Homo sapiens: one gene and its partners. The protein of the gene in region 6 purifies or fractionates together with the protein of the main gene of each other region. This does not show direct contact. Each region holds a gene or a part of one and is shown on either strand. Other genes may lie near its edges. The genes, in order: SACM1L, TNFRSF10B, CDS1, HS2ST1, SCAMP1, CSPG5 and ALG11.

What was found.
Region 1: the proteins of CSPG5 (region 6) and SACM1L purify together in Homo sapiens (affinity purification with mass spectrometry; one large-scale study listed by BioGRID and IntAct). This does not show direct contact.
Region 2: the proteins of CSPG5 (region 6) and TNFRSF10B purify together in Homo sapiens (affinity purification with mass spectrometry; one large-scale study listed by BioGRID and IntAct). This does not show direct contact.
Region 3: the proteins of CSPG5 (region 6) and CDS1 purify together in Homo sapiens (affinity purification with mass spectrometry; one large-scale study listed by BioGRID and IntAct). This does not show direct contact.
Region 4: the proteins of CSPG5 (region 6) and HS2ST1 purify together in Homo sapiens (affinity purification with mass spectrometry; one large-scale study listed by BioGRID and IntAct). This does not show direct contact.
Region 5: the proteins of CSPG5 (region 6) and SCAMP1 purify together in Homo sapiens (affinity purification with mass spectrometry; one large-scale study listed by BioGRID and IntAct). This does not show direct contact.
Region 7: the proteins of CSPG5 (region 6) and ALG11 purify together in Homo sapiens (affinity purification with mass spectrometry; one large-scale study listed by BioGRID and IntAct). This does not show direct contact.

What each region holds. Positions count from the first base shown.
Region 1 is NC_000003.12:45,741,396-45,743,652, reverse strand, and holds part of SACM1L (phosphatidylinositol-3-phosphatase SAC1), read right to left. Parts: intron 121-2,257; coding exon 1-120.
Region 2 is NC_000008.11:23,059,032-23,062,531, reverse strand, and holds part of TNFRSF10B (tumor necrosis factor receptor superfamily member 10B isoform 1 precursor), read left to right. Parts: intron 1-3,500. UniProt on the Homo sapiens protein: Receptor for the cytotoxic ligand TNFSF10/TRAIL. The adapter molecule FADD recruits caspase-8 to the activated receptor.
Region 3 is NC_000004.12:84,635,127-84,638,626, reverse strand, and holds part of CDS1 (phosphatidate cytidylyltransferase 1), read right to left. Parts: intron 3,364-3,500; coding exon 3,276-3,363; intron 1-3,275. UniProt on the Homo sapiens protein: Catalyzes the conversion of phosphatidic acid (PA) to CDP-diacylglycerol (CDP-DAG), an essential intermediate in the synthesis of phosphatidylglycerol, cardiolipin and phosphatidylinositol.
Region 4 is NC_000001.11:86,917,635-86,921,134, reverse strand, and holds part of HS2ST1 (heparan sulfate 2-O-sulfotransferase 1), read right to left. Parts: intron 1-3,500. UniProt on the Homo sapiens protein: Catalyzes the transfer of a sulfo group from 3'-phospho-5'-adenylyl sulfate (PAPS) to the 2-OH position of iduronic acid (IdoA) or glucuronic acid (GlcA) within the heparan sulfate (HS) chain and participates in HS biosynthesis.
Region 5 is NC_000005.10:78,367,117-78,370,616, reverse strand, and holds part of SCAMP1 (secretory carrier-associated membrane protein 1), read right to left. Parts: intron 1-3,500. UniProt on the Homo sapiens protein: Functions in post-Golgi recycling pathways. Acts as a recycling carrier to the cell surface.
Region 6 is NC_000003.12:47,568,866-47,572,365, forward strand, and holds part of CSPG5 (chondroitin sulfate proteoglycan 5 isoform 1 precursor), read right to left. Parts: intron 363-3,500; coding exon 287-362; coding exon of another isoform or gene 206-286; intron 1-205. UniProt on the Homo sapiens protein: May function as a growth and differentiation factor involved in neuritogenesis. May induce ERBB3 activation.
Region 7 is NC_000013.11:52,018,898-52,022,397, reverse strand, and holds part of ALG11 (GDP-Man:Man(3)GlcNAc(2)-PP-Dol alpha-1,2-mannosyltransferase), read right to left. Parts: intron 3,486-3,500; coding exon 3,255-3,485; intron 1-3,254. UniProt on the Homo sapiens protein: GDP-Man:Man(3)GlcNAc(2)-PP-Dol alpha-1,2-mannosyltransferase that operates in the biosynthetic pathway of dolichol-linked oligosaccharides, the glycan precursors employed in protein asparagine (N)-glycosylation.

The DNA of each region.
Region 1 (2,257 bases), 1.8 Mb from region 6:
TCTGGACCAGTCTGGGAGCATCGACAAAATCTTTGCCATTGTAAAGAATGATAAAAAATGTTCCAATGCTTGCAACTCCCCAGAAGAGCACATAGGCCAGTGTTTCTGTCCAAGTGTCACCTGTTGATATTAAGAAACAAAAAGCTAAATAAGTCGTTTGTTGATATCAGACCCAGTTTTCAGCTGTTTAGCACATTTTGGCAACATTAAAGTTTACTAGCACATTCACAGGAAAAATATAAGAACCTCTTAATTAAGGTTTAAACCAGTGGTTCTCAAACCCTGGCTAGTACCAGAATCTTCTGCAGGGCTTGATAAAGCATCAACTGTTGGGCCCCAGGAATCTGCATTCTAGCAAGTTCCTAGTACCCAGGTGATGCTGATGCTACCGATCAAGAGGCTACACTTTGAGAACCACTGGACTAAATGATTTCATATTATATTATACAAATAATAATGATCACTTTTAGTATATTTTAATAATACAAATAACTATTAAGTTTAATTCATAGTTCTATAACAGATATGAGCTATTGTCAAAACACCTGCACAAAAAATTAATAGAATATTCATAAATACCAAACATAAGTTATACATAACTTTTCTGAAGTTATGTATATTTTGTAGAGTATTTTTTGCATATACACAAATATATAAAACAAAAGTCAATAACATTTTCTTTAGAGATGGGGTCTTGCTGTGTTGCCCAGGCTAGAGTGCAGTGGCTATTCACAAGCACCATTCCACTACTGATCAGCATGAAAGTTTTGTCCTGCTGTTTCCAACCTGTACTAGTTCACCATTCCTTAGGCAACCTGGTGATCTCCTGCTCAAAGAGGTCACCATATTGATGCTGAACTTAGTGCGGACATCCGATCAGCATAACACACTACAGACCAGAACTCCTGGGCTCAAGTGATCCTCCCACTTCAGCCTCCTGAGTAGCTGGGACTATAGGCACACACCACAGCACCCAGCCAATAACCTATTTTAATGACATATTTAACCCAACTCTGCTGATATGCATTTTCCAAAGTCCGAAGTTCATAAAGGTTAGCAGCAAGCCGGTGGGCAAAGATCTACTTTGTTTTACTCCTTGAATAGCTGAACCTAGAGAATAGCTTCTCTCTCTGCAACACTACTGGCCTCATTTGCAGAAGGAGAAATACATACAGGGAATGACAGCCAGTGAGCACACCACGGAAGAAACTAGCATCCAGACTCCTTCCTAACAAGCCCTCAGAGATCATGCTACATTTGTTTTCTATTCTCTTTGAAAACCACAGCAGGAGCTAGAAATCAGATATTACCATAACCAAACATCACAAAGTTTATCATAAGAATAAACTGACATGAGAAGTTACCATCCACAGCATCCAATCTCTTTTTACTCAAAATATACTCGAATTTGCATAATTGCTCATTTTCATGGCTCTGAAGTTTAAAATTCTTCTTGGACAAAAGAAGAAGGGCAGTTCCTTGTTAGCCACTCTGCTGGACACTCCCTAAAGGAATCATCCGTTTCATTCAAGCAGAGTTCTTGGTCTTGACTTTCCTGCCTCTCCAGAGGTTCTTTAAGTAAATGTGGGTATAGTCACAACAACAAAATGAACTAATTTAACAGTAGAGTGGCTCCCCAAAAATGGCATGCGCTGGGCAGTGTTTTCAGGAAAGAAGGCAGAGGACCCAGAGAGGAAATGAAAGCAGGGCTGGCCGCTGAGGAACCGGCACATGCTGCCTCTTCCTTCCTGCCCTAAAACCTGCAGTCATGTCCCAGGCAATACCTGTGCTTCAACCTGTTTTTGTATTGTAAGGTAAGAATGCTTTTTACATTTTTAAATGGTTATAAACACAAAAACAAAGAATGTACAGCCATCCATAAAGACAAAAATATTTACTACCTGGCTCTTTACAGAAAAATTTTGCTAACTATAATAATAATAAGATGGCTCTTTCTTTCCCCCTACTCAACATTTCAGCATTTAGTTAAAACTATGTCACGACTGTCTACAGGGCTGAGCACTGAGGGGAATACAGAGATGAACAGGTAACTGAGCCTCCCTATCAAAAAGGTGACAGAATTAGTGGTGGTGGTGGAGTGAGTCCTTAATTCAGCAAACATTTACTGAGGGCTCACTATATCCTGGACAAAGGAGATAAAACAATGAGTAAGACACAGTCTTTACCTTCAAAAAGTTGCTGATCCAGTGAAAAAAACAAACAAGTATGCAAATCATTACCATCCAAAAAGAAATAC
Region 2 (3,500 bases), on a different chromosome or scaffold from region 6:
AGAAAAACAGTAGAGGCCGGATGTGATGGCTCACGCCTATAATCCCAGCACTTTGCGAGGCCAAGACAGGAGGATTGCTTGAAGCCAGGAGTTTGAGACCAGCCTGGATATGGCAAAACCCTGTCTCTACAAAAAATATAAAAAGCAGCCTGGCCCGGGGGAGCACACCTGTGATCCCAGTTACTCGGGAGGCTGAGGTGGGAGGATCACTTGAGCCCCGGAGATGTAGGTTGCAGTGAGCCAAGATCACATCACTGCACTCCAGCCTGGGCAACAGAGTGAGACTCTGTCTCAAAGAAAGAAAGAAAAAGAAAAAAGAAAAACCATAGAGAAAATCCACAAAACCAACATTGATTCTTCAATACTATTAATTAAACTGACAGAATTCACTAGTGAATTCTAACAAGCTTTTAATGAAGAGCTAATACCACTACTTCTCAAACTCTTTCAAAAACTTGAAGAGAAGGGAACCTTTCTTGACTCTTTCTGTAAGGCCAGCATTGCTCTGATACCCAAGCAGATAAAGATATTACAAGAAAATAAAGCTATATCCCAGTATCCCTAACTGATGCAAAAATCTTCAACAAAATACTATCAGAGAGAATTCAACAGTACCTTAGATGGATTATACACCATGACCAAGTTGGATTTATTTCCGGAATGCAAGAATGTTTGAACAAATGAAAACTGAACAATGTAATACATTGCATTAATAGAATGAAGGGGGAAAAAGACACATGATCATCTGAGTTGATACAGGGAAAGCCTCTGATAAAATTCAAAGCCCTTTCATGATGAAAACACCCAGCAAACTAAGAATAGAAGAAAACTTCCACAACATCATAAAAGCCATGTAAGAAAACCCCACAGCTAACATCATACTCAGTGTTGAAAGACGGAAAGCTTTTCCTTTAAGATTAAGAACAACATAAGGATATCTACCCACCTTTGCCACTCAGCATAGTACTGGAAGTTCTAGCCAAAACAGGCAAGAAAAAGAAATAAGAGCATCTGGACTGTAAAGGAAAAAGTAAAATAATCTGTGTTTTCAGATGATATGATCTTACTGGTAAAAAATCCAAAAGATTTCACAAAAAATTAAACTGCCAAAAATAAAATAATATTAAATTTTTAAAATTTTGAAATTTATTGTTGTTCAGTAAAAGACAGTACAGATTGCAATCTGGGAGATTTCAAACCAAGTGGTAAGAAACTTGCCTTACAGCAGGTATAGTACAGGCTATAAAGGAGGATGTATTTTGACAATTTCATGATTGACTTATAAATTTATATTCTTTTTAAAGGCAATCAGAGCTGTTTAAGCTGATTTTTCTATAGCTGCTTGATTTAACTTCACTGAACCATATTATGTCATGATGAAGGTGTAAAACTTATATTTTGTGGGATTTTTTATGATTATAGCTAATGTTTCAGGGATATCAGGATGTCTTAAGTTTTGGCTACATGGTTATGGGTAATTGCCGTGGGGTATATCTAAACTGTGTTTTTAATTTTTATTTAGTAGTACTAAAATGAATTCATCAAAGAAGCGGAATACAAAATCAACTGGAAAAGTCAATTGCATTTCTATACACTACCAATGAACAATTCAAAAAAAGAAATTAGGAAAAAATCCATTTACAATAGTATCAAAAATAATAAAATAGGAGTAAACTCACCAAGGAGGTGGAAGACTAGTACAATGAAAACTATAAAACATTACTGAAAGTAATTAAAGAATACAAAAATAAATGGAAAGATATGCCATGATTATGAATTATAAGACTAATTATGTCAACATTTCCTAAAGTGATCTATACATTCAATGTAATCTCTATCAAAATCCCAAGGACATTTTTGCAGAAATGAAAAAATGTATCCTAAAATTCATATGGAATTTCTAGGGACCAGAATATCCAAAACAATCTTGAAAATGAATAAAAATGTAGTAGGATTCACACTTCCTGATTTTCAAAACTTCCTACAAAGCTGCAGTAATCAAAACAGGATGGTACTGACATAAAAGCAGATAAATCGATCAGTGGAATAGAATAGAGGAGCCAGAAATAAACACTCACATATATGGCCAAATTATTTTTCACAAGGATGCCAAGACTGTTGAATGGAGGAAAGGGCCGTCTTTTCAATGAAGGGGGCTAGGAGAACCGGATATCCACATTCAAAAGAATGAAGTGAACCTTAGCCTAACATTGTATTTAAAAAATAGCTAAAAACAAATAAAAGATGTAAATGTAAGTGCTAAAGCTATAGAACTCTTGAAAGAAAATATAGGATAAAAATTCTGTGACATTGGATTTGGCAATAATTTCTTGGATGTGACACCATGGACATAGGCAACAAAAGAAAAAATAAACATTTTGGACTTCTTGAAAATCAGTAACTCTTGTGAATCAAAAGATACTATTAACTGGATAAAAAGGCAAAACCCACAGAATGAGAGAAAATATTTTAAGTTATATATCTGATAAGGGCTTAATATCTAAAATATATAAAGAATTCCTACGATCTAACAAAACAAAAACAACCCAGTTAAAAATGGGCAACTGATTTTTATAAACATTTCTCCAAAGCAAATATACAAATGGTCAATAAGTATATGAAAAGATACTTTAATCACTAATCATTAGGGAACTGCTGGTCAAAACGACAGAGATACCATCCTATACCCATCAGGATGACTATTATAAAAAACACACACAGGCCGGGTGCGGTGGCTCATGCCTGTAATCCCCACACTTTGGGAGGCCAAGGCAGGCGGATCACGAGGTCAGGAGATTGAGACCATCCTGGCTAACATGGTGAGACCCCGTCTCCACTAAAAAAAAAATACAAAAAAATTAGCCCGGCGTGGTGGCAGGCGCCTGTAGTCCCAGCTACTTGGGAGGATGAGGCAGGAGAATGGCGTGAACCCAGGAGGCGGAGCTTGCAGTGAGCTGAGATGGCACCACTGCACTCCAGCCTGGGCGACAGAACGAGACTCTGTCTCAAAAAACAAAAACAACACACACACACAATAAGCATTAGCAAATTTGTAGAGAAGTTGGAACCCTCGTGCCCTGTTAATGGGAATGTAAAATGGTGCAGCCACTATGGAAAACAGTATGATAGTTCCTCAAAAGTAAAAACAGGATTAGCAGATGATCCATCATTCCCACTTCTAGGTATACGTCCAAAAGAATTGAAAGCATGGTTTCAAACAGATATTTGTACACCCACGTTTATAGCAGTATTATTCACAATAGCCAAAAAGTGGAAGAAACTCAAGTTGGACAGATCAATAGATAATGTGGTATATTCATACAATGGAGTATTACTCAGCCTTGAAAAGGAAGGAAATACTGGCACATGCTACACAATGGATGAACATTAAAGACATGCTCAGTAAAATGCCATTCATAAAAGGACAAATGAAATAGGATTCCACTTGAGGTACCTAATGTAGTCAAATTCATAAAAACCAACAGTAGAATGTTGGATGC
Region 3 (3,500 bases), on a different chromosome or scaffold from region 6:
TATACTAAAATAACTGTCCCATGACTCTTATGCTAATATAAAACCTGATAATAGTTGGTGTAAGTTCTTGGAATAAGAATGAGACGTATTCATTCCAAGTACACACAGTCAGTATTGACCTGCTATTGGCCAAAAATAGAATCAGTACAACAAAACATGGACATTTTAGCACATATAATTTTCACATATTCCTAATATGCTATATACACACAGACTTCCTTCTGATATGGCAAAATACTCCAGAGCCCCAGATACTGTATTTGCTCAAGTATTGACATATCCTCTCTTTTTTCACAATCTATGTCCATTTCCAAGAAGAAAGGAACATGCTGCACTTCAAAGAAGAGATATTGTTTGTGTTGGATTCAGGCTATTGCTGCCCAGTCAATGGACCATTCATGGAAAGAAATCTGGAAAAAAATCTAGAAGTTAGTGGTGTTGGGGCAGGAGGAAAAGATTCAGGAGCAAAAAGTGAAAGTTGTTGCTCAGGGGAGATAAAGACTGTGATGTGTGGGAGGATTTGGTCATCAGGTCATTAATGAGGGACAGAAACCAAATATCAGAATAAAGTCTCTGAAGTATTAAAATGGGTTATGGGTTAACCTATAGGAGCTCTTCATAGACTTCTTGTCCTGATATTCATAAAGCCCCAAACCAAAACAGTTGGCAGAAATGGTTTCTTGACAAATCTGATAACAATTCTGCCACAGAGAAGGGACAGACACACCTTCTCCTAGGGTAATTCACTATCACTGCCATGAAGTAGGAGCAGACTCAAATTCAAAAGTGCCTGCTGATTATTGTAAAGATAGCTTATCAAATTAAATTGATGCATATCATATCGATTTAGGGGTTAACTGTTCAATTATCTAAGTATATTATACAATTAATCCAGCCTGATAAATTCACTAGAAGGCTGTGTTCAAAATCAGTTGCTAATATTCTTCCACAGCTATAACAGCCTTTTTGAAGGCTTCTGATATGGTTTGGATCTGTGTCTCCACCCAAATGTCACGTCCACTTGTAATCCTCAGTGTCGGAGGTGGGGCCTGGTGGGAAGTGACTGGGTCAGGGAGGGGGTTTCTAATGGTTAAGCACCATCCCCCTATTGCTGTCCCATGAGTTCTCATGATATCTGGTTGTTGAAAAGTCTGTGGCACCTCCTCACTCTCCCTCTTCCTCCTGCTCTGACCATATAAGATGTGCCTGCTTCCCCTTCCGCCAAGATCATAAGTTTCCTGAGGCCTCCCCAGCCATGCTTCCTGTACAGCTTGCAGAACCATAAGCCAATTAAAGCTCTGGCATTTCTTTATAGCAGTGTGAGAATGAACTAATACAGCTTCCCAAGCCGAAAACTTCTCAGTCTGGGTAGAACTCTTGAATACGTAAATCATGTATTCAAGCTTTAGAAACTCTGGAGCAGCTTTAGAAACGTTTTAAAAATATACAGCTTGCTTACCAGTATCCTTATACAGCTCAGCCCAACACTCTCTGTGTGCTGATGCTTTCAGCAGGTGCTCTCTGTGAGCTCCTCCCCAAGAGGGGAAGAGTTTACAGAGGTTTTTGGAAGAACAGGCAGTCCACAAATTCCTCTGGTAATACTAAACTACCCTCATACCACTCTGAACAAACAGAAGGCTTTATATCTGAACAATTGTCTCAGTCCTTCCAAAACTGCATTCATATAACAATATCAAAACAGCCAGGTAATAATATGTCTGTGAGAACATTATTAAAAACTTTGCCCAATAATGTGAAATGTGTGAATCTTATCTGAAACTCCAACATGAAAAGCTCTTTTAGGCCGGGTGTGGTGGCTCACGCCTGTAATCCCAGCACTTTCAGAGGCCGAGGTAGGTAGATCATTCGAGGTCAGGAGTTCTAGACCAGCCTGGCCAACATGGTGAAACCCTGTCTCTACTAAAAATACTAAAATTAACCAGGCATGGTGGCAGCCGCCTGTAATCCCAGATACTTGGGAGGCTGAGGCAGGAGAATCACTTGAACCCAGGAGGCGGAGGTTGCAGTGAACCCAGATTGCGCCACTGCACTACAGACTGGGTGACAGGGCGAGACTTTGTCTCCAAAAACGAATAAAAACTAAACAAAAATAAAGAAGAGCTCTTTTAGAAGAAATCAGTTCTAGAAAATGATTTGATTTCCATGAAGAATTAGTTTATTTCTTCTCCCAAATGAGAACTATGTAATTTAGTTCATTTCCTTCTTTACCATTGCCCATAAATAGAACCAATTCTATAGCAAAACAACATGGTCTACTCATGTGTATTTTCCTTTCCCTTTCATTATTACTTGTATTTTATTAGTATTTTATTGTAGGGCCCCAAAATCTTCTTTTGGTATGAGTTTGGATATGAAAAGTCACACAAATGGATATGAGGATGTGAAGGTGTATTATATAATCTCTTCTTTGAGAAAGTTTGGTAAAGGAGGGGACAGGTAAGGCGACAGGTTGAAGGGAGAGGAGAGTCAAGGAAAAGGCTTGTGTATAGGCTTGCTGGAAAGGAGGATAAAGAAGAACTGCACCAATGGCCGAGAGAAAAAACCACAGAGCCCAGGGGCGGTGGCTCACGCCTTTAATCCCAGTACTTTGGGAGGCTGAAATGGGCAGACTGCTTGAGCCTAGGAGTTTGGGACAAGCCTGAACAACATGGCAAGACTCTGTCTCTACCAAAAATACAAAAATTAGCCGGGTGTGGTGGCATGCACCTGAAGCCCCAGCTACTCGGGAGGCTGAGGTGGGAAGATTGCTAGAGCCTGGGAGGTGGAAGCTGCAGTGAGCCATGGTAGCACCACTGTACTCCAGCCTGGGTGGCAAAGCAAGACCCCATCTTCAAAAAAAAAAAGGAAAGAAAAGAAACCACATAAAGATAAAATGAAGATGAAAAGGGAGGGAGGGAGGGAGGGAGGGAAGGAGGGAAGGAAGGAAGGAAGGAAGGAAGGAAGGAAGGAAGGAAGGAAGGAAGGAAGGAAGGAAGGAAGGCAGGCAGGCAGGCAGGCAGGCAGGCAGGCAGGCAGGCAGGCAGGCAGGCAGACTGATGGAGTCATGCCCTTCCTGAGGAGCCAACAGAAGAGCTGATGAAGAACCCAGATGGAAGTACTGAGAAATATGGTTTGCTGCTTCTGCACCATGCAGCTAAGGAAAATCAAAGCACCTCAAAAATAAAAAATGCACAACAGCACAGTTGTTGGAAATGTTCTCCAGTGGCTAATCTTTAAGGTTACATAGTGGCTTGCTTATAAAATTTTTCCATTACCTTAATTAATGGAGTTCTCCCAAAAAAAAATCCAAAAAGGTAAGCAGTTATGTCATTGCAGATAACACTTGATATTGGAACAAGGAACCTGTTTTTAAAAAAAAAAAAAAAAGTCAGCAGAAAAAAGTTCACCTGAGTAAGTGGCAGATATTCGGAAAGGTTATGATTCATAATGAACCATCAGAATAACCCTTTGGATTGCACTGCAGCCTACCCAGAACATAA
Region 4 (3,500 bases), on a different chromosome or scaffold from region 6:
TTTTCACGTTCACCTGGAACATTTACCAAGATAGTTTTTTTTTATTTGTAATTGACAAAACTGTATATATTTATCATGTACAACATGTTTTAAAACATGTATATATCATGGATGGCTAAATCAAGCTAATTAAGACAACATGCATTACCTCACATACTTTTTTTTTTGGTATGGTGAAAACACTTAAAATCCACTCTCTTAGCAATTTTCAAGAATACATTGTGACAGGAGAATGAGGGAAAGCTTCGGGAACCATGTCTTTAGGTAAGTGAGGCAACAGAATCAGGTGCACAAATGACCGAACAGGAGCACTGACAGTTACCATCTATTGTTAACAGGCAGAAAGGCAGAATACGTAAGTACAGGTACTGGTAGGTGGGTAGATCTTAAAAATAACTAGGCTATAGTGAACCATGATTATGAAGTTCATCTATAAGTACATCCTTCAAAAATGGTCTTCTGGAGAGCAATCTTTGAACATTCATTATTATTTCAATTTCTCTAAGTGCCAAAAAGCTATTAGAAGGCCTACCAGAGTGGTGGACAGACATCCTGGAATTATCTTAATTGAGATCAACTATTTCAGGTGACTACTCCATGGCACTAGACATCCTATTCAAGACTAAGTGAGGCACCAATTACCAATTCTAGAATAACTGTATTCCTATTAACCCAAAGTCCTCAAAACAGTAGCTACTATGAGGTTTTCCAAATGATTTCAGAAGTGAGGAAATCTAGCATTCTCTGGAACATCTTACAGGTATTGCTGCATGGTTTCAGGAACTTACTTGTAAAAACTACCAAATTCCAAAAAGCAGTCTCAACCTTGGCCCTGGAATTAGTTGTTTAGTCTAGTAGAGTTTTAAGAACATAATGACTAACATTAATTCTCACCAATGGATGATTACATAATCCATTCTCAATTATTTTCCCCATGTAAAAGATTATTCCTAATGTGCTCATAAATCCATATAGAGATGTAAGAATACAGTCAACAAATATTATTTACAATGCTAAAACCCTATAGAAAATAAAGTTACCAAGCACATAGTTCTATCACTTATGTGAGAAAATATTTCACTGCACTGTTCGACCAGTCAATATTAGCAACAAGTGCGCTCTTGAAATTCGGGAAGAACTACTTTTTACCAGCCACAAATTCTGACATTTTATAGTAACGAGTCACAGTTAAATAGTTTTCATTTGGATTCCCTGTCCTTTTCCATTTCTCACTAGAAAATTAAGTCTACATTTTAATACAATGAAGTATTAACTTCATTTGAAGTTGAAAAACTTCTCTTTTTCACAGGTAATAAGCTTATCTCCTAAATTTAACTCACAATCTGCACGTTATGTTACTAAAAACAAAAAAAAGTCCACTAAATATGAAACATCTACTATAAATCTGTGATCCTTGCCATTAAAGGAATCACATACTCCTTTGCAAATCTGATGAAAGTTATGTATATAATTTCAGGGAATTCACTGATACCTTGAAGCCTATTTATGGGTCCCCGAGGTTTAAAGAATCTCTGATTAATGGAAAATAGCATCCAAAATTGATCCAAGAACATATGAAAACTTAGTATGTGATTAAAAGAAGGAATGTTAACATACAGTTGGAAAAAATGATTTACTGAGAAAATCATGATAAATCTCTGTAAACATACAAATGGTTTAAAGAGCCAAATGTAATAAACTATAAAATACTATAATAAAATACAGAAAATGTACACAATCCTGGCTCTGGGTAAGTCTTCCTAAGCAAAATATGAAAACGACTTCCCTAAATTGATAGATTTAACTGTGTGTATTTTAAAACTTCTATATGAGCAAAACACACCATAAAGTCAAGAAACAAATGGCAAACTTGGACAAAAACAAATAAGAGGCCGGGTGCAGTGGCTCATGCCTGTAATCCCAGCATTTTGGAAGGCAGAGGGGGGCAGATCACTTGAGGTCAGGAGTTCAAGACCAGCCTGGCCAACATGGTGAAACCCTGTCTCTACTAAAAATACAAAAATTACCTGGGCGTGGTGGCACGTACCTGCAATCCCCGCTACTTGGGAGGCTGAGGCAGGAGTGAGCCGAAATCGTGCCACTGCACTCCAGCCTGGGTGACAGCAAGGCTCATCTCAAAAAAATAAATAAATAAATAAATAAATAAAAATAAAAAAAATTTAAAAAAGACATAGGATAGATAAAGGATTACTAATTCTAATATTTAAAAAAAAAAGTAAACCACCCAATAGAAAAATAGAAAAAAGTAACAAATAAAAGGGCAATAAACATGTAAAGATGTTCAACCTACCTAGAAATTAGAAGGTAAATTAATTGAATATATCATTTCACAGCTTCACACTGGCAAAAATTAAAAGCTGATTATCTTCTAGTGCTAATGAATGTGTGCTGGCAGTGTAGATTACTACATCTTTTGAAAAACAAAAAAATGTTGAAAAGTAGATTTTTAAATCTGTTAAATTATAAAATATGTATATTCTTTGTCCCAGCAATCTCACATACAGAATTCATCCTAGCACAAAATGACATCAACATGAGTTAAACGGACACATAAGGATGTTTCCTATAATTGTTTATAATACCAAGAAAGAAAAGAAACACTCAAAAAAATTATATATATATGTATATATACACACGCACACACACGACAGATGGGGGACAAACTGAATGTCCGTTACTAGAATAATGGCTTAATAATTTATGATACATGCATACTTTGGAATATTATACAGCTATTATTAATAGAATGAGTAAGTCACATCTATATGTACTGACCTGGAAAGATGTGTATAACATTCAAGGCAAAAAAAGCAAGCCGCATTGTAATATGTGGACTACAATGCCATATTTGTTTTTTAAAAAATAAAAATAAAAAGCTGTATTACTGAATTTTTTTTTTTAGGAATTCCTAATTAGTGAATTTCCCAAGTAGTCAATGAGTACACCTCAGTTTTGAATACATCTATTGCTCTATTAGAAGTCTCACCATCAAAATACTGTACTCTCAAATCAAGGTATATTAAAGCCACTATCAGACAATACTATCCTTTGGAATCTTCTACAATGAAAATGATAATAACTACTTTTAAGGACAAAATGTTTAATAGGTTTTTTATGCCAAAATAAAAATGCTTTTTTAACATTGTGATTTTGCACGTATGGAAAACAGCTAGATTTTTCTTTCCTATAGTAAAAATAAGCTATCTAATTCAGTTGTTTCATTGGGTAACATAATTATGTTCATTACATGAATCTAAACAAGGGGCAGACGTTACATTAAACCAATTCCTTTGTATCAGAAATTCAATTTTCTCTGAATGATATTCATTCTTAGCAATAAATGCAATTAAACACTGATATTACAATTTTAAAACTCTATTCAAATACCTAAATCTCAGCGTAATGTCAATATAAAGTCTTAAGCAGCCGGACATAATTAAAGGAGCACTTGATTTGGAATCATACATACCTGGGTTGCA
Region 5 (3,500 bases), on a different chromosome or scaffold from region 6:
TAATAGACAAAAAACAGAAACAACTTAGGTGTCCAGCAATGGATAAAGAAACATTACTAATTCTGAAAAGCACCCAAAGCCAAATGCCAAGGAGAAGGGGATTACTGGATTGCTCTCTGGGTATAGATCTGCAAGCCTTCTGCACAGAAAGGAGAACAGGGTTTTCCACACCAGTCTACACATATGAAGTCAAACGCTGCAGGACATTACAGACTGCCTCAGTAGGAACAACTCAGAGACTTGTTACAAGGTTAAATCTAACCAAACTCCATGTCACCTTTTATATCCCACACCCACTGAAAGTTGGAAAATTCTCCCTTGTGATTTAAAAACATCTTACAATATTTGCAAGTATATTACTCCACTACACCACCAAAAACTGTAGGTCTAAATACAGGCTTAACTCTATCACCCTTTTGGCAAGAAAATGTTACTTTACACTTACGGTTTAGCAATTCTGGTTGAAACAGACAGACTCACTCAGGTCACCCCAAATGCTGGGAGCAGGAGAATATTTTAAAGATATATACAGAAAGAAGAACGCCAGGTTTCACAGAGATTGAAATTCTTCATGACATGGCACATCCCTTCTAGTTAAAAAACACCTCTAATGAAGGACAGGAATTCTTGAAAATGGCCTTCAAAAGCCTAGTGAGATAACTGCTATTCCACTGCTTTGGACAAGTACCTTTGTTAAGATCAGTCAGCTGAGGCCAGGGTGGCAAAAGTCACACCCTAGAGGACATGATCACAAATGTGTAAGCTACCATGAGGGCTGCTCCCTCAGCAGAAGCTGAGGCTCAGAGCATAGCTGGTCTCTGAACATAAAGCATCCTCTCTAGCTGAACTGATCATACTTAATTCCAATATCCAATATGGTCGATATATTAGAACAGAGAAAATGCAGGAATACCTAGTTTCACTGTACTTCACAGATATTGCCTTTTTTAAAAAAATAAATTGAAGGTTTGTGGCAACCCTGCATCAAGCAAGTCTCGCAGCACCATTTTCCCAACAGCATGTGCTCACTTCACATCTCTAGCGTCACACTACGGTAGTATTCGCAATATTGCAAACTTTTTCATTATCATTATGTCTGCTATGGTGATCTGTGATCAGTGATACTTGATGTTACTACTGTAATTGTCTTGGGGTGCCACAAACCATGCCCATAACACTGCAAACTTACTTGATAAATGTTATGTGTCCTGGCCGGGCACGATGACTCACGCTTGTAATCCCAGCACTTTGGGAGGCCAAGGCAGGCAGATCACCTGAGGTCAGGAGTTGGAGACCAGCCTGGCCAACATGGTGAAACCCCGTCTCTACTAAAAATACAAAAAGTAACCAGGTGTGGCGGTGCACGCCTATAGTCCCAGCTACTCGGGAGGCTAAGGCAGGAAAATCGCTTGAACCTGCGTGGTGGAGGTTGCAGTGAGCCGAGATCACGCCACTGCACTCCAGCCTTGGAGACAGAGAGAGACCCTGTCTCAAAAAAAAAAAAAAAATTGTGTGTCCTGACTATTCCACCAACCAGTTGTTCCCATTCTCTGTCCCTCTCCTTGGGTCTCCCTATTCCCTGAGACATTACAATATTGAAATTAGGCATCTCTGTAGGTTATCCAACTTCTGCTTGAATTTCTGCAAGTGCTGGAGAATGCCCTACCAAAAGAGCATTGTCAGGCCATGGTAGCAGATTTTTAAAAGTCTGTTTGGACAAAATTTACCTTTACCTTCAAGTAAACTTTGCCAGTTAACCTTAGATTCTTTTTCTAAAGCAACAAATAACAAGTTTATTCACTTACCTAAGAACACTTTAAGTATCTGATGGGAGCTCTCCTATTTCCCTTTAGCCCTCTGTAGACTAAATCCACTGAGTAATTGAAACTTAAATTGTTCTTCCTAGAACTTGATTCCAGTCCCATGACCATTCTGACTGTCCTCTTTGGGCATATCCTAGTATTTTCAAACCACTCTTTAAATATGCACTTGCAATTGAGAAGAATACCCAGCTATTAGACCAGAACAGAATACTATAGGATTATTAATTTTAAGGAACTGATCACTAATTTCACTAAGCCAATATATATTTTTCAGCAACTATATCACACTGGTGGTTCATATTAAGGAAATAACCAATAAATTATTTGGATCTGCATTTATCACTATTAAATATTAATCATAGTCCAAAAAAAACTTTTGGTAATATCAGCACAAGAACAGTTTACTTTCGAAATTTTCATAATCACCATCATCTCATATGACTGTAAAGCTACAGGGCCAAAATAAAACTGTGTTCAAATCTTAGTTTTGTCACGTGGCACAGCAGCCTCCTATGGCAGCAGCCTTCCCCTGGCCATATGAGATGCTCAACCTAGACAAAAGTTTTCTAAACATCTGAAGAATACCGACCATGGCAACGGACACTTCACCCTAAATGAAGATTGTCTCAAAAAGAATGACAAATGTGGTTTTTAAGGCATGGTTTGAACTCTGGTAAGATTAAAAAGAAACTGTTAAGAGAGTTGTGACAGCCTGGACTAAAGAAACAGTTCAAAATTAATAGAAACTTCTGGGCTCCCAATTTTCAATGGGCAAGAAGCAGGCCAAAAATGCTACTCAGCTGCCAAAAGGGCTCATTCTTATAGAAAAAAATAAATAAAGGACCTCTCAGAGGGTGGAGCCAAAAGCAGAAGAAAATAACAGGTGAAGGAACCAATACGAGGTAGCAGAACTGGGCCCTAATCAAGAAACATTCATTGTCCCCAATGTAGGGGACCCTAACAACACGTGCCTGGCTAGATTTCAGAACTGCTATGCATCAGCAGGTGCTACACGCCTCCCACTCTTTCCCTATTTGAATGGGAGTGTCTAGTGAAGTTATCCTACGACTACCTCGCCATTTTATACTAGGTGTATCTTCAGATCATAGGTCTGTCTCCAGTCAAGAAGTGGAGCCTATTGCTTGCCACTCCTTTTAAAATCTAGGCTGAACTTGTGCCTTGTTTTGACCAACAGAATACAGCAGAAGTAGCATATGATTCAAGAAGCCTTGTAGATTCAGCTCTTGCCCTCTGGGAGCACTGCTGCTACTATGCACAAAGCCCATTTATTACTAGTAGAGAGGCTACATGAAAGACAGCTAATTGCTGTGCCCACTGACATCTCCAGGTAACCAGCAGGCACTTGAGTAAGGATATCTGAAACCATAAACCAGGTGACTGAAGCCACTTTAGTGACTCCAGAAAAGAACATTAAAAAAAAGAAAAAACCTGCCCAGCTAAGTCTAGCGCAATTAACAGAATCGTGAGCAAATAATTGTTATTTTAAGCCATTATATTTTGGGATTGTTACATAGCAACAGATAAGTGAGACAGTGGTAAATAAGATAATGGTGCATCTTACAAAGGATGGCATCTTAAGTTGATGAAATATAACAGCAGCTCAATATGTGCTTTTTAAAAACATTAACATGAGGAAAAATGAGCAGGAATTCATGC
Region 6 (3,500 bases):
AGAAAAAGACCTTTTGTATCGAAAATTCTGCTTGTCAAATAAGTGATACACCATCAAGTGCTTATTCCCACCTTTGCTGCCCAACTCAGTTGCCCTAGGCTGACCTCCAGAGCTCTCTGGGGATTTCATATTCTGAAATAGACATCAGACATGGGCCAGGGGCCAAAGCATGCATAAGAGGAGAGATGTGAAGAAAACAAGTTACCTGACAGATAACGTTATCATAGTGAGCCAAGGCACGGGCATGGGGGGAGGAGGTACGGGGAGTGTTGCAAAGTTTCCTTACATTTGGGTGAGAGCCCTCGGCAATGGTGGAGAGGGAGAAGTTATCATTGTGGAGCTCAGATGGGGTCCGGAATTTGCTGGTTAGGAGAGAAGAGTGAAGGAAACATGTAAGTGAAATAATCACGGCAAAACATGACAATGTCTCAGCTTCTGGATCAAATACTGTATTTCGGCTGGGCGTGGTGGCTCGCGCCTGTAATCCTAGCACTTTGGGAGGCTATGGTGGGCAGATCACTCGAGGTCAGGAGTTTCAGATTAGCTTGGCCAACATGGTGAAACCCCGTCTCTACTAAAAATACAAAAATTAGCTGGGCGTGGTGGCAGGCGCCTGTAATCCCAGCTACCTGGGAGGCTGAGGCAGGAGAATTGTTTGAACCCAGGAGGCGGAGGTTGCAGGGAGCCAAGATCGTGCCACTGCACTCCAGCCTGGCTGACAGAGCGAGACTCCATCTCAAAAAAAAAAAAATTACAAAAAATCCCTACAAAAAACAAATACTGTATTTCTTTCTTTATTAAAAAAATTATTTTAAATTTTATTGATAAGTACAGAATTGTACCTGGTGCTGGTTATCGGTTTTTAAAGGCTTTTCTATTCTTTTCTTTTTTTTTTTTTTTGAGACAGGGTCTCACTCTGTTGCCCAGGCTTGAGTGCAGTGGCACAATCACAGCTCACTGCAGCCTTGACCTCCTGGACTCAAGTGATCTTTCCACCTCGGCCTCCCAAGTAGCTGGGACTACAGGTGCATGCCACCATGCCCAGGTAATTTTTGTATTTTTTGTAGAGATGGGGTTTGACCATGTTGCCCAGGCTGATCTTGAACCCCTGAGCTCAAGCAATCTGCTTGCCTCAGCCTTCCCAAAGTGTTAGGATTACAGGTGTGAGCCACTGCGCCCAGTCAAATACTGTATTTCATCAAATGCCATGGATTATCTTTTTTTTTTTATTTTACTTTAAGTTCTGGGATATAAGTGCAGAATATGTCAGTGTGTTATATAGGTATATGTGTGTCATGGTAGTTGGCTGCACCTATCAACCCGTCATCTAGGTTTTAAGCCCCACGTGCATTAGCTATTTGTCCTAATGCTCTCCCTTCCCTCTTCCAGATTATCTTAAAACAATTTTTTTTTTTTTTTGTAAAGATGAGGTCTTGCTATGTTGCTCAGGCTGGACTCGAACCCTTGGGCTCAGGTGGTATTCCTGCTTTGGCCTCCCAAAGTCTTGGGATTACAGGCATGAGTCACAGCATCCAGCCAAATGCCATGGATTGTAATAAGGTGCACCATTATTTGATGTACCATTAAGAAAAAATAAAAACACTTCCACCACTTAAACCATCATCCAATACTTTCTTATCACCTAGAGCTTTTTTTTTTTTTGAGACAGAGTCTTGCTCTGTTGGCCAGGCTGGAGTGTAGTGGCACAATCTCGGCTCACCGCAACCTCCACCTACTGGGTTCAAGCATTATCTGGCTCAGCCTCCCGAGTAGCTGGGATTACAGGTGGCTGCCACCATGCCCAGCTATTTTTTGTATTTTTAGTAGAGACGGGGTTTCACCATCTTGGCCAGGCTGGTCTTGAACTCCTGACCTCGTGATCCACCCATCGTGATCCACCTGCCTCGGCCTCCCAAAGTGCTGGGATTAGAGGCATGAGTTACCGTGCCCAGCTGAGCTTTTCTTATATACTTGAAGTAGTTCATTTAGACTTTAGATAAGGGACTGACAACAATATGAACAGCTAGGAACCCATTTGTGCATGCCAGGGAATTACAACTACATCATAACTACCATATGGCCAACAGTGATCATAAGATGCCAGTGGCTGGGCACAGTGGTGCATTCCTGTAGTCACAGTTATTTGGGAGGCTGAGGTGGAAGGATCACTTGAGCCCAGGAGTTCAAGACCACCCTGGGTAACATAGTGAGACCCTGTCTCAATTAAATTAAAAAAAAAAAAAAAGATGGCAGTGATTGTAAGACACAATCCAATTTCAGAGATGTTAATATGTGGGGAAAAAAGGTATATTTTAGAATAAATAAATTATGGCAGTATCTGCAGTGCACCAGGCACATGTCACACCATCAAAGCAGTAACCAGGCTTGGGAAAGAAAGAAGGCATGTGGAGAAACAAGAGGGCCATGCTCTGTGAAAAACACAGGGCTGGCTAGAGGAAGAGGCCCTAGAATAGGGTCCTGCACCTGGCCTCAGCTCTTGCTTCTCCACTGCCCTGGCTGTTGTTCCTTTCTCTCCCCCATCCTCATCAGCAGCTGCTGTGATTGAAGCAGTCCCATCTCCTGCCCCCTGGATACCCCTGCTCACCCACCCCCTTGGTGTAGGCGTGAGGAGCCAGGGGTCCAGGACTGTGTCTTTCTGGAGTGATCACGTGTGTAGATGCAGCCCGCCTCAGTGCACAGGCACAATGGAGAGGCCGTACCAGCCCCGCGGCGGTTAGCTGAAAGGCTGCAGAGAGCTGCTGGCATCTGTACATTGCATGAGTCTACCCAGCAAAGGAGCAACAGATGGTGTTTTGTCCTTTTCCCAGGACCCAGGGAAAGTCCTTCAGTCACATTCTCTAGAGGGAGTCTCAGGTCAAGGGGAGGGGGATTAATGGGGCAACAGGTTGAAAGGGAAGTGGGGGCAGTTCTGCATAAATTGTCTCTGGGGTCCCAAGGAAGCTGAACTCCAATCTCCCTTTTGTGACTCCTGTGACACTTCCAAAAGGTTTTCTAACTTTGCTTAGTAATAGGAGTAATTTTCTCATAGCGTATAAGGTCACATCCGAGTGTTCAAGGCATGGGCTTAAAGGCAAACACATGTTGATTCTCACATGCACACAACAGTCACTGCTTTGCCAAGAGAAGAGCTGAAATAAGATTCTACATCCCGTATGGCCCTTAAAATCCACAGTAGAGGAAGTTAACCCTAGTTCTCCCCACATATTCTACTCAGGAGAGGTAAAGAGGATTTTCTTAAGTTCCTTGCACTTCTGATTGGACACAGGCTTGACTAGCTTTCAAAAAGCAATGCAGTGTGGTGCTAAATAAACCCTTTCTCCTCAGTGTTCACCGAGGAGGAGCTGATTTTGGGTGACAGATGTGAAGGAGATGGAGTTCCTCCACGCAGAATTATGAATGAAATCTCGCACTGGCCGCTGGCTGTCACAGTCCAGGGAAGAAGGGTCTATCAGGCAGGTGGGCAGACTGAGTAACTTACC
Region 7 (3,500 bases), on a different chromosome or scaffold from region 6:
TCCATTTGTTTTTTCTTTCTTTTTTTAAGACAGGGTCTCGCTCTGTCTGTCGCCCAGGCGGGAGTACAGTGGCGTGATCTTGGCTTATTGTAGCCTCCACCTCTCGGGTTCAAGTGATTTTCGTGCCTCAGCCTCCTGAGAAGCTGGGATTACAGATGTGTGCCACCATGCCCAGCTAATTTTTGTATTTTTTAAGTAGAGAAGGGGTTTTGCCATGTTAACCAGGCTGGTCTCAAACTCCTGGCCTCAAGTGATCTGCCAGACTTGGCCTCCTGAAGTGCTGGGATTACAGGTGTGAGCCACTGTGCCCGGACGGGCCACAAATTCTTTGATACTTTTCTCACTGAGAGGTGGCATCTAAGTCCCCTCCCCTGGAATAACACCTGGCTCTGTGACTATTTTGACCAACAGAATATGGCAAAAGTGACATTGTGCCAGTTTCCCAACATAGACTCTAAGGGACTGGCAGCTCCTACTTCCTGTCTCCTGGAATGCTCATGCTAGGAGAAGACAGCTGTCATGTACGGAGTCCAACCAGCCCGAGATTGCTATGTTGTATGCAAGCACAACCAAGTCACATGAAGAAGCTCCTCAGTGAGAGAGATGCCCGACAGCCCCCAGCAGGTCCAGTTATCCCAGCCCAAGAACCAGAATGTGAGTGAAAAAGGCTTCAGATGCCTCCAGCCCCAGCTGCCATCTAATTGCAACAGTATGATGGAGACCAAACATGGCAGCCCCTAAACCATGTCACAGAACAGTAACCCCAAAACTGGTTTACTATAGCACTTAGAATAAAATCTAAACTAATTTCCCTGCTCACTCAAGTCCTGTGTGATCTGGAACCTGCCTCCCTCTGTCACCTCCCTTCCCATGCTCTCCTTTGCCCTCCAGGGTGCAGCCAAACTGGCATTCTTTTTTTTTAACACGCCAAGCTCCAACCAGCCTTAGGGGACTTGCAGTGGTTGTTCTCTCTACTCTGAATTCTCTTTTCTCATTTTCACTGTCTTTTCATAAGGCAGGCAGTTTAGCATGTGGTTCAGAACATGGGCTCTAGTGCCCCAGTTTTCTTCTTTGTCAAATGAGGATAATGGTAACAACTGCAAAAGGCTGTTCTGAGGATCAAGTGAGCTAACACATGTAAAGCACTTCAAACAATACCTAACATACAATCATCACGCAGTGAATGCAGCTGTTTTTGTCATTCAGATTTTGATTGTTATCAGATATTTCCCTGATCACTCTATCTAAAGTATCAAGTCACTCCTATATTACCCTATTTTAACTTTTTATATAGCACGTCTCACTATTTGATATTTTTCTTCTTTGCTTATTATCTTGTCTCTCTCAACTAAAATCAAACGTCCAGGAGAGAAGGACTTGATCGATCTTGTTCTCTTAATCTCAACCCCCAGAACAGTGCCTGACACATAGCAGGTCCCCAATAAATACTGCTAGGTCGAATGAAAAGTGCACTGTAGTATGTGTTGAGTTAGGAAAGGCTTGTAGAAATTAACTGGGGAGAAAAAGGTTATTTCAGAAGAAAAGAACACTATATAGAAAGGGAAGGACTCGAGAGAGAGCATGATGTGTTCAGGGAGCTGCTCCTTGTTCTGCATGTCAGAGTAAAGTACCTGTGAAGGAATGGGGAGGGATGAGAAACGCAATGTGGCCAGAGCAAGATGAAAAAGTATCTTCCAAGTCATATTAATGATTTGGTTTTTTTCTCCTTGTAGATGGGTTAGGAGTAATAGAGGCTGCTGGGGACTATGTGTACAGATATCATGAAACTTTACCACCGCCATCAAGAGGTAGATAATCTGGTTAGAGAAGAAAAAAGTATTATCAACGAGAGTAGGAAAAGCATCACGGAGTTGGGAATTATGAGAATTCTTTGTATTTAGGCAGTTACAGAAGATGGCAGAGCAAATACAGGGGTAGGGCCTGGAAGCTAGGATGGGCCAGGATTACAGAAAAGTATAGCTGAGGTAATTCTGTGTGAAGGCCTTGGCACTGAATGAAGGGTGTGTACCAGGAAGTAGGGTAACCATGAAGAGTAACAGTTTTCCTCATATGATAAAATAATGGAACCTACTATGCTTTTTCCTTTCTAAAAGAGAATCATAAATATTTTGGGGGTATGGGGGGTGGTGATGACGAAGCCTCAAATATTAAAAGATGTATAACACCATATTCCTTCTAACATGGTAAGTTGAGACTATCCAGCTGGTAATGATATAAAAATTTGAGTCAAATAGATACTTTCATAAAGATTATTCCTGTGTGCCACAACTGCCTGAAAGTATTCAGGCTTAAAGTGCTCTGACATACTTGGTATATTTCTGTCAATTACTTAATCTCTTCTGTATATGCTCTCCCAAGGGGACCAGTTATTCCCATTAATTTATGCCATAAAAGGGCAGATGTTTTCCCCATCCACTGTCCATTTCTTTCTTTCTTTTTTGTTTTCCCTTGAGACGGGTTCTCACTCTGTCACCCAGGCTGGAGTGCAGTCAGTGCACAATCATGGCTCACTGTAGCTTTGACTTCCCAGGCTCAGTCAATCTTTCCACCTCAGCCTCTGGAGAAGCTGGTGCGCATCACCATGCCCAGATAATTTTTTGTAGAGACAGGGTTTCGCCATGGTGCCCAGGCTGGTCTCAAACTCTTGGGCTCAAGTGATTCACCTGCCACGGCTTCACAAAGTACTGGGATTACTGGTGTGAGCCACCATGCCTGGGTTTGTCTATTTCTTTATCATAGTAACTAAAGTCAAATAAGATCATATAAGGTATGTGGGCACATGAAAGAAATATTTTCTTATTGAAGAACAGTTTAAAAAGGAATTCATTTTTTACTTTAGGTACTTTAGAAAGATGAGGCCGGGCACGGTGGCTCACACCTGTAATACCAACACTTTGGAAGGCCGAGGTGGGCGGATCACAAGGTCAGCAGATCGAGACCATCCTGGCTAACATGGTGAAACCCTGTCTCTACTAAAAATACAAAAAATTAGCCGGACGTGGTGGCGGGCACCTGTAGTCCCAGCTACTCGGGAGGCCGAGGCAGGAGAATGGCATGAACCTGGGAGGCGGAGCTTGCAGTGAGCCGACATCGTGCCACTGCACTCCAGCCTGGGTGACAGAGTAAGACTCTGTCTCAAAAAAAAAAAAAAAAAAAAAAAGATGAATTTCTGGATAATAATTTTTAAGAAATGGAACAATATAGCAAATTAGCTAAGAAAGATGGATACCTACTTTTTCTGCAGGGCTCTTAAAGCACACCATAAAACTCTTTCTCCTCCTCCACCAGCATTGCAGTATGGATGAAAAAATGCAATCACCATTTGATTTTTCCCATTTTTGCTAGTTGACACTAATTTTTTCTTTCTCTGTAGCAGCAGTCTGATTCCCCAAAGGACAATGACCAAACACACACATAAAGTTCCACATACAATGAGCCCAGGGAAGAATAATGAATAAAAAAACCTGAAATAAGAGGAC